Homo sapiens: one gene and its partners. The protein of the gene in region 4 purifies or fractionates together with the protein of the main gene of each other region. This does not show direct contact. Each region holds a gene or a part of one and is shown on either strand. Other genes may lie near its edges.

The links. The genes of interacting proteins can lie anywhere in the genome.
Region 1: the proteins of SLC18A1 (region 4) and FADS1 purify together in Homo sapiens (affinity purification with mass spectrometry; 2 studies listed by BioGRID and IntAct, with this or other methods). This does not show direct contact.
Region 2: the proteins of SLC18A1 (region 4) and ECPAS purify together in Homo sapiens (affinity purification with mass spectrometry; 2 studies listed by BioGRID and IntAct, with this or other methods). This does not show direct contact.
Region 3: the proteins of SLC18A1 (region 4) and EMC8 purify together in Homo sapiens (affinity purification with mass spectrometry; 3 studies listed by BioGRID and IntAct, with this or other methods). This does not show direct contact.

The regions. Positions count from the first base shown.
Region 1 is NC_000011.10:61,807,004-61,810,503, reverse strand, and holds part of FADS1 (acyl-CoA (8-3)-desaturase), read left to right. Parts: intron 1-3,500.
Region 2 is NC_000009.12:111,474,384-111,477,883, forward strand, and holds part of ECPAS (proteasome adapter and scaffold protein ECM29), read right to left. Parts: intron 1-3,500. UniProt on the Homo sapiens protein: Adapter/scaffolding protein that binds to the 26S proteasome, motor proteins and other compartment specific proteins. May couple the proteasome to different compartments including endosome, endoplasmic reticulum and centrosome.
Region 3 is NC_000016.10:85,793,045-85,796,544, forward strand, and holds part of EMC8 (ER membrane protein complex subunit 8), read right to left. Parts: exon of another isoform or gene 239-3,500; intron 1-238. UniProt on the Homo sapiens protein: Part of the endoplasmic reticulum membrane protein complex (EMC) that enables the energy-independent insertion into endoplasmic reticulum membranes of newly synthesized membrane proteins.
Region 4 is NC_000008.11:20,162,637-20,166,136, forward strand, and holds part of SLC18A1 (chromaffin granule amine transporter), read right to left. Parts: intron 2,472-3,500; coding exon 2,411-2,471; intron 2,329-2,410; coding exon 2,233-2,328; intron 1-2,232.

The DNA.
Region 1 (3,500 bases), on a different chromosome or scaffold from region 4:
CAAAGGATCCAGCGGATGACCAGAAGGATCCAAATGATGAGATAGCCTATCCTTGAAGGTGCTGATGGCACCTCCTGGAGGTGCTTTTTTGACACTCTTGCCCCAGGCAAGTATTCCCCTTGCACTTTGTATTTCTCTCCCACACTTAGGTATCCTTCTTGTCACAGTCTTCTCTGTCCAGGGCTGGACTGTCTTACTCTTCTTTCATGTCCAATATCTGGAACATTCATTCACTGAGTACTTCTTCCCACCCTGCTGATCCCCAGCCTGATTTCCTGGGTGGTCAGCGTTGGGTTTGAGATGTCGTCTGAAGTTGTAAGCAGAAATAATGTAGCTGCTGAAGGAATAATGCCTGGGGGTGGAGATCTGGTGAGCTTTTAGTGAGCATTAGGCAATGGAAGGTTCTAAAAGGCCAGCAGAATTCTTTGAAAAGTTCATTTAAAGCCCTTTGTCCCAAGGCTGTAGGCTGCAGAGTTCTTCCAGGTCCACCTCCTCCACTTTGTGACATTTCAGCTTGCGAGGAATTAAATTGTCGTTAAAACACATTTCAGTTCTAGGCATGAGTTCAAGGTAGCCTGGCGTTCCTCTCGCCCCTGGCCATGAGAACTTTGAAAGGGCTTTGGCAGCACTGGTTGGCCTGGCATGAGGAGCTCATAGCTTGAGGCTCATGCCCCACCTGTCCATAATGTTCTTATTTTCCCATCATGAGCATGGACTTGGGTTTGTTACATGTCCGATACCATTATGGTCAGTACTATGCAGATGACGAAGCAGCCCTGTCCCCCGTCTGACTCCCATGGCTGCTTCAAGGGCAGTGTGGTTATTTGCTGGGCAGTGGCATGGGGCTTGTGCATTTCTACTGTCACTACAGAGGGTTTAAAAAAAAGACATGGGCAGGTTAAGTGGAAGGGAACAGTCTCACACCACTACCTTTATTGCTTCTTGGTACTTGGGTTTTCAGGAAATTCCTATCAGCAGACATCAAAAACAGAGAATGAAGGGACGCAGTTGGCATGTGCCTGTGGTCCCAGCTACTTGGGAGGCTGAGGTGGGAGCATCGCTTGAGCCCAGGAGGTGAAGGCTGCAGTGAGTATGATCACGCCACTGCACTCCAGCCTGGGTAACAGCGCAACCCTGTGTGTAAAAATAATAATTTTTTAAAAAGATTAAAACCAAAAAAAAATTGTAAACAGAGTTCAACGTAACTTACAGATTAAAAACAGTAAAATATGACAGAAACTGAGAGGTAGTCATGATCAGATATGGCCTCCTTCGGGTGCCGACATCTGAACTGAGACCTGAATGATGAAAAGGGCCAACACTGCAAAAATTCAGGGAAGGAACATTTGGAACAGAGAGAACAGTCAAGTACAGAGGCTCCCGGATGTTCAGGGACAGTAAGCAATGAGAGAATGAGAAGACCAGAAAACTAGGGAGGGGCCAGATCATGTAGGGCCTTAGAAAGCCATGGTAAGGGTGTGGTAAGAAGTTTGGGTTTTATTCCAATAGCAATGGGGAGTCACAGGAGGGTTTCTGGTGGGTACAGCAATCTGCTTTGCACTTTAAAAGGCTTGCTCTGGCTGGAGGTGGAGAGGATGAATTATAGAGGGTAGGTATAATCACAGATATAACCTCAGTGAGGCGGCTGGAGCGAGTCCAGACCAGACCACGGAGGAGCAGGTGAAGCCAATGGATTTGGGATATGTTTTGGAGGCAGTGTAAGCAACGCTTGCTGAGGACCTGGATGTGGTGGTGAGAATCACCCCATCTCGAGCAACATTAACTGAGGAAAAAATTGAAAAAGGGGCGCCCTTGCTTGGGGGCTTCCTATTGTGGAACTGTTATGGAAAGGAGCCCCATCCATTGCTTCCTCCTTGAATGGCAAATGCCTTTATGATCCCTATAACTTGTCCCATTATGTTTAGACCCTTGGTGGTCAGAAGGGTTCTATTTAGGGCAGTGTCCCCTGCCCCTCCTTGTCCTCCAAAAATTTTGGGAGGCACTGACGTGGATGTCATGGGGTCAGCACAGGCATCAACATCCCCAGAGGGATGGAACCAAGCAGCCTATTGCCCAGGCATTCACTAACAGGCAGCCCATCCTCAGCCTCATAGCTGGCCGGGGAGAAGAAAGGCTATTTTGGGTCCCAGATCTTTTTTTTTTTTTTTGAGACAGAGTCTCGCTCTGTCACCCAGGCTGAAGTGCAATGGTGCGGTCTCAGCTCACTACAACCTCCGCCTCCCGAGTTCAAGAGATTCTCCTGCCTCAGCCTCCTGAGTAGCTGGGACTACAGGTGCGTACCACCAAGCCTGGCTAATTTTTGTGCTTTTAGTAGGGACGTGGTTTCACCATGTTGCCCAGGTTGGTCTCAAACTCCTGGGCTCATGCAGTCCGCCTACCTCAGCCTCCCAAAGTGCTGGGATTACAGGCATGAGCCACTGCACCCGGTCTCTGTTTACAAATTTATCACCAGCTTCATCCCCTAAGGTTATAAGCTCCATGAGGGTGGGAAGTCTGTATTGTTCACCTCTGTATCCTAAGCATCTAGAACATAGCCCGGCACACAGTAGGTGCTGAAGAACTTGAATCTGTTAATGTAGAAAGGATGTTTCATCTAGCTGAAGTGTCTTGTACAGAATAAACTCTCAATAAATGAACTGTGGACACATGGAAGGGTGAGCTAGAGCTCTGCTCAGGGGTTGAGTGCTCCTCTTGTGCCCTTGTGGTTGTCTGGTTACCTGAACTAATTGGAGTGCGATGCAGACATAGTCATGGAGTGAGACAGCAGAACTTTGCTGTCTTGTTTGTGAGCCCACATCAGGGGTTCTAGACTGGCTGGTTGACATGGTGGCCCCAGCCTGTCTCTTCAGCAGCTCGGCTTATAAAAAATAACCACCACCTACTGGGGAAAACTGCTGGAACCTTCAGATTGCCAAATTGTTCTTGGTGTCTTTTCCAGAAATATTTGCCAAACTCGAATTAGCCTTCAGGAGATTTGATAAAGCTCATGTTTAAGTCAAGAGACCAAAAGATTTTGATGGGGAGAATTAGGGGCTGGATATAGAGGGAATACTTAACCTGTATAGGGGCAGATATGGTTGTCCATGGAGATTCTGGTGTGAAAAAGTACGATGGCGGCCGGGCGCACTGCCTCACACCTGTAATCCCAGCACTCTGGGAGGCTGAGGTGGGTGGATCACCTGAGGTTGGGAGTTCAAGACCAGCCTGAACAACATGGAGAAACCCCATCTCTACTAAAAATACAAAATTAGCTGGGCGTGGAGGCACATGCCTGTAATCCTAGCTACTTGGGAGGCTGAGGCAGGAGAATCGCTTGAACCCAGGGAGGCAGAAGTTGTGGTAAGCCAAGATCGTGCCATTGCACTCCAGCCTGGGCAACAAGAGCGAGACTCCGTCTAAAAAATAAACAAAAAAGTACGATGGGAGAAAGGGGAGAGGGCAGTGGGGCCTGGAAACCTCATGACAAAGAGAATGAACAC
Region 2 (3,500 bases), on a different chromosome or scaffold from region 4:
CCCTATTTTAGGGATTTTACATTATATTAACTCCTTGCCAAATCCACTTCCACTGTCCCAACTCAGACCCTAAGTTTCTTTTTACTTGGCCATTGTGATACCCTCCTAATTAGTCTTGCTGCTCTTGATCTCCGGATCCTTGCAATCAGTGTTACACCAATGCCACCTGTTACCCGTACAAAACAGACCTACTCATGTTACGCTCCTGCTTAAAAGCTCTGATGGTTCTCTACTGTCTACAGAACAAAGTCCAAACTAGTTCTGTTGGCATTCCTACAACATGCTGGTCCCAACCTATCTCCACAGCATCATCTGCTATTACATCCCACACCAAAAATAATAATAATTTATAAGAGCTTAAGTGTTTACACAGTACATTTTCACATACATTAATCCTAACAATACTATGAGTGAATCTTGTCATTCCAATTTTATGAGGAAGAAACTGAGACTTGCAAAGGTAAGGTAATTTGTCCAAGATCTCAAATCATAAAGGCAGCATGGGCCAAGTCTCAAACCACACAGCTGATCCCCTTTCCCAGTACTTCACACAGCCGTAGCACCCCCATTCCCATCATAACAGACTTACTCAGCTTTTTTTGTTTTGCATAATATTTCCCTATCTCCAAGTCTCAGCTCAAGCTATTTTTCCTTTAGCCTCAAATACCATTCTCATTTCTTGAGGTTTCCAAAGAACTGTGTTAGGCAGTTTACTTACCGTGCTTTGTGTATGTTATTTACATTTGCACATAAATCTGTCTCTGCACTGAATTATAAGCCCTCTGAGGACAGCACCATACATTATTTACTCAATTTTAAAAGTCTGCTTATTGAATTGAAAAAATACATGGGCAAAACAAGCCATATAAAATGGGAAGCATCAAGGCCAGGTCTGAAACGAGAGCTCAGCAACAGGGATCAAACCATCTGAGAACACTGGCAGTGACTTCAATTTTAACATCTATCTTCTGAACAAGGTCAATGCTCCTGTGCCAACTATTCTCACTGACAATGGCCTTGATCACATATTATAGTTTACTGAAAGCATAATTCAAAACAGAATGTGGTGGGCCAGGTGCAGTGGCTCAAGCCAATAATCCCAGCACTTTGGGAGGCCGAGGCAGGCAGATCACTTGAGGTCAGGAGTTCAAGACCAGCCTGGCCAACATTGTGAAACCCCATCTGTACTAAAAATACAAAAATTAGCCAGTTGTGATGGTGCACGCCTTGTAGTCCCAGCTACTCAGGAGGCTGAGACAGGAGAATCACTTGAACCTGGGAGGCAGAGGTTGCAATGAGCCAAGATTGTGCCTCTGTACTCCAGCCTGAGTGACAGAGTGAGACTCTAGTTTCAAAAAAAAAAAAAACCCAGAATGCAGTGAAAGTAAAAAAATCAGAATGGAAATTAATAAAAAATAGAAATATCCGTGGTCATTTTTCCATCTTAACTTTCCTATTTGGTTAAGTAACTAAAATTTAAATGATACAGGCTTGCCTTGGCCTTTCTACAAAGATCAGCTTGGAAGCCTGTATTCTGGTCATTTAAGCAATTAGCTCTTAGGGGCTATTTCAGTATGGTCACAGAATCATGTTCAACACACAGCTTCCCAAATCTCATCCTCTAAAAGAGCTACCAGGATTCCCAGCACTAGCAGAGGCTCTCTCAGAAGACACCTGACATGCTGATTATCTGGCCAACTTTTGCAACTGAAGTTTCCCATGGCTATGTCAAATGGTCAAATTGAATAGTGCATCCTTCAAGATTATAGGCTGTTGCTCCTTCATGAGTTGCCTTTATCCCAACGAAGATCAGATTCTAAGGATGCCTTATAATTATAAAGCCCAGAATACGAAACCACTAAACAGCTGACCAGGTGAAAAGTCTCAAATGCTTCCTTCCCTGTTGGAAATCTCTCAACCCACTCCTGAAATATTAACTATAATGTCAACTTTTCCATAAAGTGGCAGAAGATAGTATTAGCAGAAAAACTAGCCACATGTCTTGCATTGAATTTCATTTCATTTGCAATAGTTATAATCACTCTAAGCATAAGGAAAGAAAGCTACAGGCTCTGACCTAAACTAATTTACAAACTAGATTTCAGAACTGCCTTTAACAGTCAAAACTAATGGTTTTCTTTTTTGGCAACATACCCAAAAATCTACTATGTTCTGTTCAGTAACATCAGAATTTTTTTTTTTTTTTTTTTTTTTTGAGATGGAGTTTCACTCTAGTTGCCCAGGCTGGAGGGCAATGATGCAATCTCAGCTCACCACAACCTCCGCCTCCCGGGTTCAAGTGGGAGTCTCACTCTGTCACCCAGGCTGGAGTGCAGTGGCACAATCTTGGCTCACTGCAATCTCTGCCTCCCAGGTTCAAGTGATTCTCCTGCCTCAGCCTCCTGAGTAGCTGGAACTACAGGCGTGTGCCACCACAACCAGCTAATTTTTGTATTTTCAGTAGAGACAGGGTTTCACAATGTTGGCCAGGCTAGTCTTGAACTCCTGACCTCAAACCTCAGGAACTCTAAACCTCAGCTTCCCAAGTAGCTGGGATTACAGGCATGCGCCACCAGGTCTGCCTAATTTTGTATTTTTAGTAGAGATGGGGTTTCTCCATGTTGGTCAGGCTGGTCTCGAACTCCCAACGTCAGGTGATCCACCTGCCTCAGCCTCCCAAAGTGCTGGGATTACAGGCGTGAGCCACCGCGCCTGGTCCTTTTTTCTTTTTTTTCTTTTTTTTGAGATGGAGTCTAGCTCTGTCACCCAGGCTAGAGTGCAGTGGTGCGTTCTCAGCTCACTGCATCCTCCAGTTCCCAGGTTCAAGCAATTCTCCTGCCTCAGCCTCCCAAGAAGCTGGGACTACAGGTGCACGTCCCAACACCCGGCTAATTTTTTTGTATTTTTAGTAGAGACGGGGGTTTCATCATGTTGGCCAGGCTGGTCTTGAACTCCTGCTCTCAACTTATCCCCCAGCCTCGGCCTCCCAGAGTGCTGGGATTACAGGTGTGAGGCACCGCTCCAGCCCTGATTGCCACATCTTATACACTACAGAAGGTTCTTTCTGGATACTGCGCCTGGCCCCGATTGCCACATTTTATACACTACAGAAGGTTCTCTCTGGATACTAGTTAGACACACACACACACACAAAAAGCCATTTTGATCTTGTTATGAACTATATATTCTCCCATGCAGGACAGGAATAACACAGTAGTAGTAGGGCAGAATTAATACAAATTTTGCAATCAGAGAATCTAAGTTCAAGTCCTAACTGTCTAATGAGGGTAGCTCTACCCCTGAGACAGTACCAGTACCAAACTCACAGGGTTGTTCTGAGGATTCAATTAGTTGATACATGCAAAACAATTAGAACACACGGTAAACACACAATAAATAAACAGCTTTACTATTCTTCTATTATAATCACTGACTCAAACATGAGGTTTGTGAAAGGATAACAAATGCTAACAATAACAAGTCTCACCCCAAAATTAACC
Region 3 (3,500 bases), on a different chromosome or scaffold from region 4:
CTTGGCAGGAGTCTACCACCCTCTGCTCAATGTCCTTTTTGGCTGCTTCTGTTCCAGACATGGAAGAGAACTATTAAAAGGGCTGGGGCCACCCCTTTCATTCCCAACTAGACTCTTTGCACAGAGGCAGTAGCTTCTCACAGCAGCCTTGCTAAAATCTGCACTATCCCCCCACGCCCCTTGTGACTGTACAATAACCGTAAAGAAGGCGAGGCAGGGACCACAACTTGCCACTTACCAACAAGATGAGGGTAACCTGCTGAGCCTTCCTATCTGCAGCAAAAAGTAGGCCTTGGAGTTCAGAAGTAGAGCAACTGTTATTTTCACTGAGAAGGAAAGTTCCTTCTCAAGTCAGCTGCTGATCTTTCTATGGAATGAGAAGGAGTGGGAACCATGAAAGAAGAGCTTGGGAGGTCAATGGGACCGAGATAGAGGGTGAAGTTCAGGGGGAAGAACTCAAAGGGGGAACCACAGCATCCCTCTCCCCATCCCCAAGGTGGCACGTGAATGTTCTGGAGATGAACAAAGGGCAGGAGGGAGTAGGGGCATGGGAGAGCTCCAGGGCAGCCGCCGTGCAGAGGAGCAGAGGACAGGCCCACATGGAGGCCACAGCAAGAATTCTAGCCTGAAATCATGGTGATGAGGCCAGTGAGCAAGCCAGCAAGTCATCTGCGCAGAATGTAACAGAAAGCTACTCCACCGCACTAGAAATCAACAAGGGGAAAAGGGCAGAAAGGGATTAGAGAAGCGGGTTCAAGCTAATTTCCATACTAACATTTTATGGGTTTCTGCTATTAGGAATAATTCCTTCACTACCTACGTCAAAGGGTTATAAGGATAAATAAGTTAATAGGCGTAAGTACTTAAAAAAACATAAAAAGCATGCAAAAAGCATGCACAAATGCAAGGATTTTTTTAATGGAAAATAATGAAAAGCCTTTCAAAGGAATCTAATGTTGTCCTTTGATAGACAGTCTATGGTCTTTCCCCTTTATCAAAAACAATTCCAATAGGAAGCTCTCTGAATGGAACAGAGCCATGAGAACAAGGCCTCATTTACACAGCTGCATGGATTTAGATGCTTTGTGAAAACTGCATCTTCTATGGCTGATAACCTCATAAACTATGGCTCTAAACACTGAGAGTTTTCATTGCCTTCAGGTTAGGAAGTCACTAAGTCAAAAAGTGAATAATATAAATTTAATAGCTTAACTGAAGTACAAAATTTGTGGATGGACTCCAGCTGCAAATTTTCCCCTGTAACTTTCCTCTGAAAGTTATTTCATGGGCACTGGATTGCTGTCTTTTTCATATTTGCCCACTGCTGAGGGAATGAGTTTTTGTGAATATGAGAAAAGTCAGGGCTGAGTGCGGTGACTCACGTCTGTAATCCTAGCACTTTGGGAGGGCGAGGCGAGCGGACTGCCTGAGCTCAGGAGATCGAGACCCGCCTGGGTGACACGGTGAAACCTTGTCTACTAAAATAAAAAAGAAATCAGCCGTGCGTGGCGGTGTGCGCTGGTAGTACCAGCTACTTGGGAGGCTGAGGCGGGAGAATCGCTTGAACCTGAGAGGCCAAGGTTGCAGCGAGCCGACATCGCTCCACTGCACTCCAGCCTGGGTGACAGAGTGAGACTCCATCTCGGAAAAGTCAGTATAAATAACTATTGCCTGGCAAAACTTGCTGCTTGTTTTCACTGCTGAAGAGTAGTTACCGCAGGGAGTCAAGTGTGGACCTTACTTGCTGGATGGGGACTCATGTGGTGGGGGGAGGTGCTGGAGGCTGGATGTCTACAGTGCAGACTGTAACTAGGAATGAGGCGCGGGAGCAAGGTCAGAGTGGGCCCCTGCGGTGCCCGGTGCCCTCTCACGCTCAGGTAGCAGGCAGTCACTGTCCCCTCTGGGCATCTTTCCTCCCTGGTAAGTGGTTTGGGAGGCAGCCCTGCTCCCCCGTGGAAAATTCATGTACAGGTGACTTGAATGCAGTTGTTTATAGTTCCTGGGTTTAACTCTGTCAAGTACTGCATTCATATCCCATAGTCGGAACAGAAGTGTTTAACTCTGTCAAGTACTGCATTCACATCCCATAGTCGGAACAGAAGTGTTTAACTCTGTCAAGGTTACTTAAGAATGAGAAGAATAAGCAACATCTGACATTCCAAATGAGGTTCAAGTTTGTCTTCAAGAAGCTCCTAGAAGTTTCTGACAGGATTTTACATGGCCAGCAGCCACCACACCTTCTTCTCCCACTCCTGGGCTGGTCCTCAGTTGCTCTGTGACTCCTCCTCCACTCAACCCATAAAAGCCAGAGTGCCCCAAGCCACGTTCCTGGGGTGTGATGAGAGACACTGGTTTTCCTCCCCGTTCCTGGCTCCTCACGGCCCTGGTTAGTCTTTTGATAGAATGCCAGGTGCGTGAGCCTCAGGGGCGCTAGGACCCCACCTTCTCCTGCCCTCCTTCCACTCCACTGTTCCCTCTCCGCCTTTCTGACGGTGGGTCTTAAGACCTCCAGGAGAGGGTCCCCCCTAGACCTCGGGGGAAGGAATGCTGATGTCATGAAGCTCCCATAAAAACCCAAGAGGACGGGGAGCTTCCATGCCCCTTTCCCATACCTCGCCCTATGTGTCTCTTCATCTGTATCCTTTGCAGTGTCCTGTATAATAAACCCATAAACATAAGGTTTTCCCTGAGCTCTGTGAGTTGCTCCAGCAAATTAATCAAATCCAAACAGGAAGCCATGGAAACCCCACCTTGAAGCTGGTGGGTCAGAGGTTCCAGAGCCTGGACTTGCTGCTGAGCCCTCAACCCGTGGGCTCTGACACTATCTCCAGGTAGGCAGTGTCAGAACAGAATGCGGAGACACCTAGCTGGTGGCCGCTGCTTGGTGTGTGGGGAAACTCCTATACATCCGGTCACACAAGTCTTCTTCTGTGTTGACTGTTGGCGGTGAGAGCAGAGGACACACGCGGTTGGAGAGCTTTTCCCTACGCAGTCCTCAAGTGCTAAGACCTGCTCTCATGGCTTCAGAAGTCACCGGCACACCACTGGTTCTCAATCTACATCCATCTCTGGTCTCTGTACTCAGACCCATTCTTCACCTTTCAACCTAGGACTTCTTCATTTGAACATCTCAAACTTAACATACCCCAAACAGAAGTAATCACCTCCCCTCCAGACCTGTTTCTCTGCCTCTTCCCTCAACAAATGGCACCAGTGCACCATCGTCCCAGCGCACAAGCCAGGAACCTAGGTAACACCCTTACTTCCTTTTCCCCTAGGTCCATGCACGATTAGTCACCAAGACCTGTGGATTCTCCCACCTGCTCTCTCTTCTGTCCCCTTCTCCGTACCCATGCTGCACTCAGTTTTGCCACCTCCCTGCCTCTAGTCTTGGGTGTACTCCTGTCTCCAGCATCCTTTCTGCTGCAGGCTGGGGCCATCACTCGAAGGCACTGATCTGATCACGCAACTCTCCTCCAGTGGCTTCCCTCTGTCCTCAG
Region 4 (3,500 bases):
TTTGTAACTGTATAACAAGGATGGCCTTTACTCTAGTGTCCAATACCTTGTTCCTCATTTCTATCTGAGACCTCGTCAGAATGACCTTCACTGTCCATATTTCTATCAACATTCTGGTCACAACCTCTTAACCAATGTCTAAAAAGATTCAGACTTTCTCTATAGCTCTCCTCTTCTTCTGAGCCCTCACCAGAATCACCCTTAATGCCTTAACCACAGCAATACAGGCTCTTTCTAGCCTGCTCCTCCAAATTATTGCAGCCTCTACCAATTTTCCAGTTCCAAAGCTGCTTCCATATTTTCAAGTATTTGTTATAGCAGCAGCCCGGTTTCTCATTACCCATTTTCTGTCTTAGTCCATTTTCTGCTGCTATAATATAACAGAATACCAGAGTGCATGATTTATCAATGAAAGAGATTTATTTGGCTCAGGGTTCTGGAGGTTAAGAAGTTCAAAGGCAAGCCTCTAGTGTCTGTTTGGCCACCTGGGGAGTGCCTGGTTGCTGGATCATAACATGGCCAAAGGGGGTCACATGGAGAGAGAGCACACATGAGAGAGATGTAAAGGGAGCTGAACTCCCCTTTTATTATGACAAACTCACTCCCATGATAATGGCCTTAATCCATTCATGAGGGTGCTCCCATGATCTCATCATCTCTCAAAGGTCCCACTTCTCAAGACTGTTGCACTGGGGATTCAATTTGCAACATATAAATTTTGGGGGACACATTCACACCATATCAGAGGTCAAAGAGGTTAAATAACTTATCCGAGGTCACAATCAGTAAGTGACGTGGTCAGCATTCAAACCCAGGTGGACCTGGGCTATTTCCTCCCCTTGGTGATGCTACCTAGTATATGGTGGGCCACATAGCAAGCACTCAGAGGCAGACTACACATTACTTTCAAAAGCATGGACTCCTTTGGCTCCCAACACCTTTGAGGGATGCTCTTCATGTACAGCAGCGATTTTCTAGGTGTGATCACTGACCAGCTATATTAGCATCACCTGCAGACTTACTAGGGATGAAAACTTGTTTTGACTAAATTGCCTACTGTCTCCCAGCAATCAGAGTTTTAACAAGCTCTCTAGGTGATTCTGATGTAGTTGTTGGACAACCTTTGATGTCAGACTTTACAGACCAGATAGCATTGAGAAAGCTGTAAAAGATGGTGGCAACTGAGTGACTGGTAACTGAGTAATTGGTAACTGGCAACTGAGAATGGTCCCTAGGCTGCTGGGGAGGAGCTGCTCTGTGTTGTAGCTGCTCACTAGTATCGAGACCCTGAGTGGTCAGAGCCTTAGGGCAGGCGATGAATTATCTGCACTGAATACCGACTAACTCAATTAATCGTCATGGTCAAAAGCACTTGCAACCCATAAAAATTCAATTTGGCACTAGGAGTGCAGCTGGGAGTCTTGCTTAGAATTGCCCCCCCAAAATTAGATTTAGTGCTTTTTATTGCATGCTGAACTATATCATGTTCTTATCAGCTTCCCCTCTGGCCCCGTAAGCCTCTCCTCCCTGCAGTGATGGAGCAATTTGCACGTAGCCTTCCCTGTCCTCTTTCCTCAGGGTTCCTGGGAAGGGCTAGATCCTCCTCTCCAAGCTCCTCTCTAAGTCGCTGCATGAACAAAGGAAGCTGGAACCCTCTCTCCTGGGCCCATAGCTTTTCCTAAGTGAGTGCTACATACACCCCTTTTTAGAGGTAAAAAAGATAACCAAAGGGTAGTCTTGAGGATGAGGAGCTGAAGGGAGGAGAATGTGGATGGTAATGGTGCACATTAATATTGTACAGGGTACAAAGCATTTTCACCTCATATGTCATTTATTCATCCAATTTCTCTTGAACTAGATAGTATTTTGATGCTCATTTTAGCAATGAGAAAAGTGATGCTCAGAGGGTTTAAGGCATCTGCACAAGTTTTCACAGAAAATCAAAGGAGCTGAAACCAAAACCTGAATCTTTGGACTGGAAATCATTAATCATCCTACTACACAGCTAGGTATGTGACCTCTCCATAGCCCCTTTCATCCTCTCTCACCCTCCCCTTTCTCAGACTGCTTCTCTGAGGGACCACACACCCTCTTGGGCTTGATTCATGGGTGTGGACGTGGGAGGTCATTCTACAAAGGAAGCATGTTGTCCCTGTGTGACATTGAACGAAAGGACTCATGGCACCCACCTCCTCCTGCCAGGCCCTGAGCGGGGGTGCTGAGGTCACTTACCCAGCTGCCACTTGGGGGAGCACATGGTCTGCATCATCCAGATGGGCAGTGTGGGCTCCAGGATGGCCACCCCCATGTTGGCAAAGCAGATGGACCCTGGGGAGACTGTTCTGTGAGCAGCCGTGGCTGCTTGAAGCCCAGACACTCCCCGCCCAATGGGAGGTCATCGCCAGCTTACCTGCAGCCACCAGGATGTAAGGGTCTTTGAGAAGCATAAAGAGGGGAGTCCCCTTGGCACTCTGAGAACATGGATAACAAAAAATGTCCATTTGTACAGTGCATACATCTCTCCTATTTTCACAGAATCTGAGAAAGTACAATTATGGGCTTAGAGACCATCTACAGTATCTCCTTTACTGCAGAGACCAGGAACCCCAGTACAGGGAGAGAAAGTGACTTGTCTGATGCCACAGAGGAAGCTGGAGGCAGGACCCCTCCTGTGTGAAAGGTAGGCACTGTAATAGTCACAGATAGAGAAGCAACATATTCCAGCCATGGTTCCTGCGTTCACGTGACCATCAACAAGGTCAGAGTGGATTGGTAGCAAGGTCAGGGTTGGACAATAGATGTCTGGACTCCTGGTTTCCACTAGATCTCCCTGGTACTAATATTTGTCCTGGGAGAACCACAGGCAGAGCACCGAATCCCAAAAGCAAGCACAGAAGCCATAACTCAGAAAGCCTCTCAAGCTTTCTGAATTCTTCATTCTGATCATTTTGAGCCACACTGAACTAAGGTAGAAGAAGCAGGGTTAAAATACAGCCTAAACATCCAGGACCCACTCTCGTCAGGACACACTCTCATCTAAACTTGGTCGCCCCACCCTCTTTCCAAGCATCCCAGCAGTGCCTCAGCCATCATTATTGCCTTTGCCTAAACTACACGTTCTGAGCTTCTCCATAGTTCCATGTTCTACCCACTCTTTAAAGTCAAGCTTAAATGGCTCCTTCTTTTCTAGAGAGCTCCCTGACTCAGTAGCTGGGGCTTCTCTCTCTTCCAGACATCCTGAACACTATGTCCTAATCCTTCATGGTGTTTACTACTTTCTATCTTGTAATAGATTGGATCATTTTGGTATGATAACCCTCTCTGCACACACACAATAGTGGATTGATAAATTTAGAGATCCTAAAACTAAAGAGATCATTCGCTTACCCAATTATTATTCGAAGTAAAGAAACTGATGTAAATCATTAAAATATACATTTAAAAGTACAATAAACCCTTTGACCCAACAGTCCCACTTCTAGGAATTGACTCTAAAGATT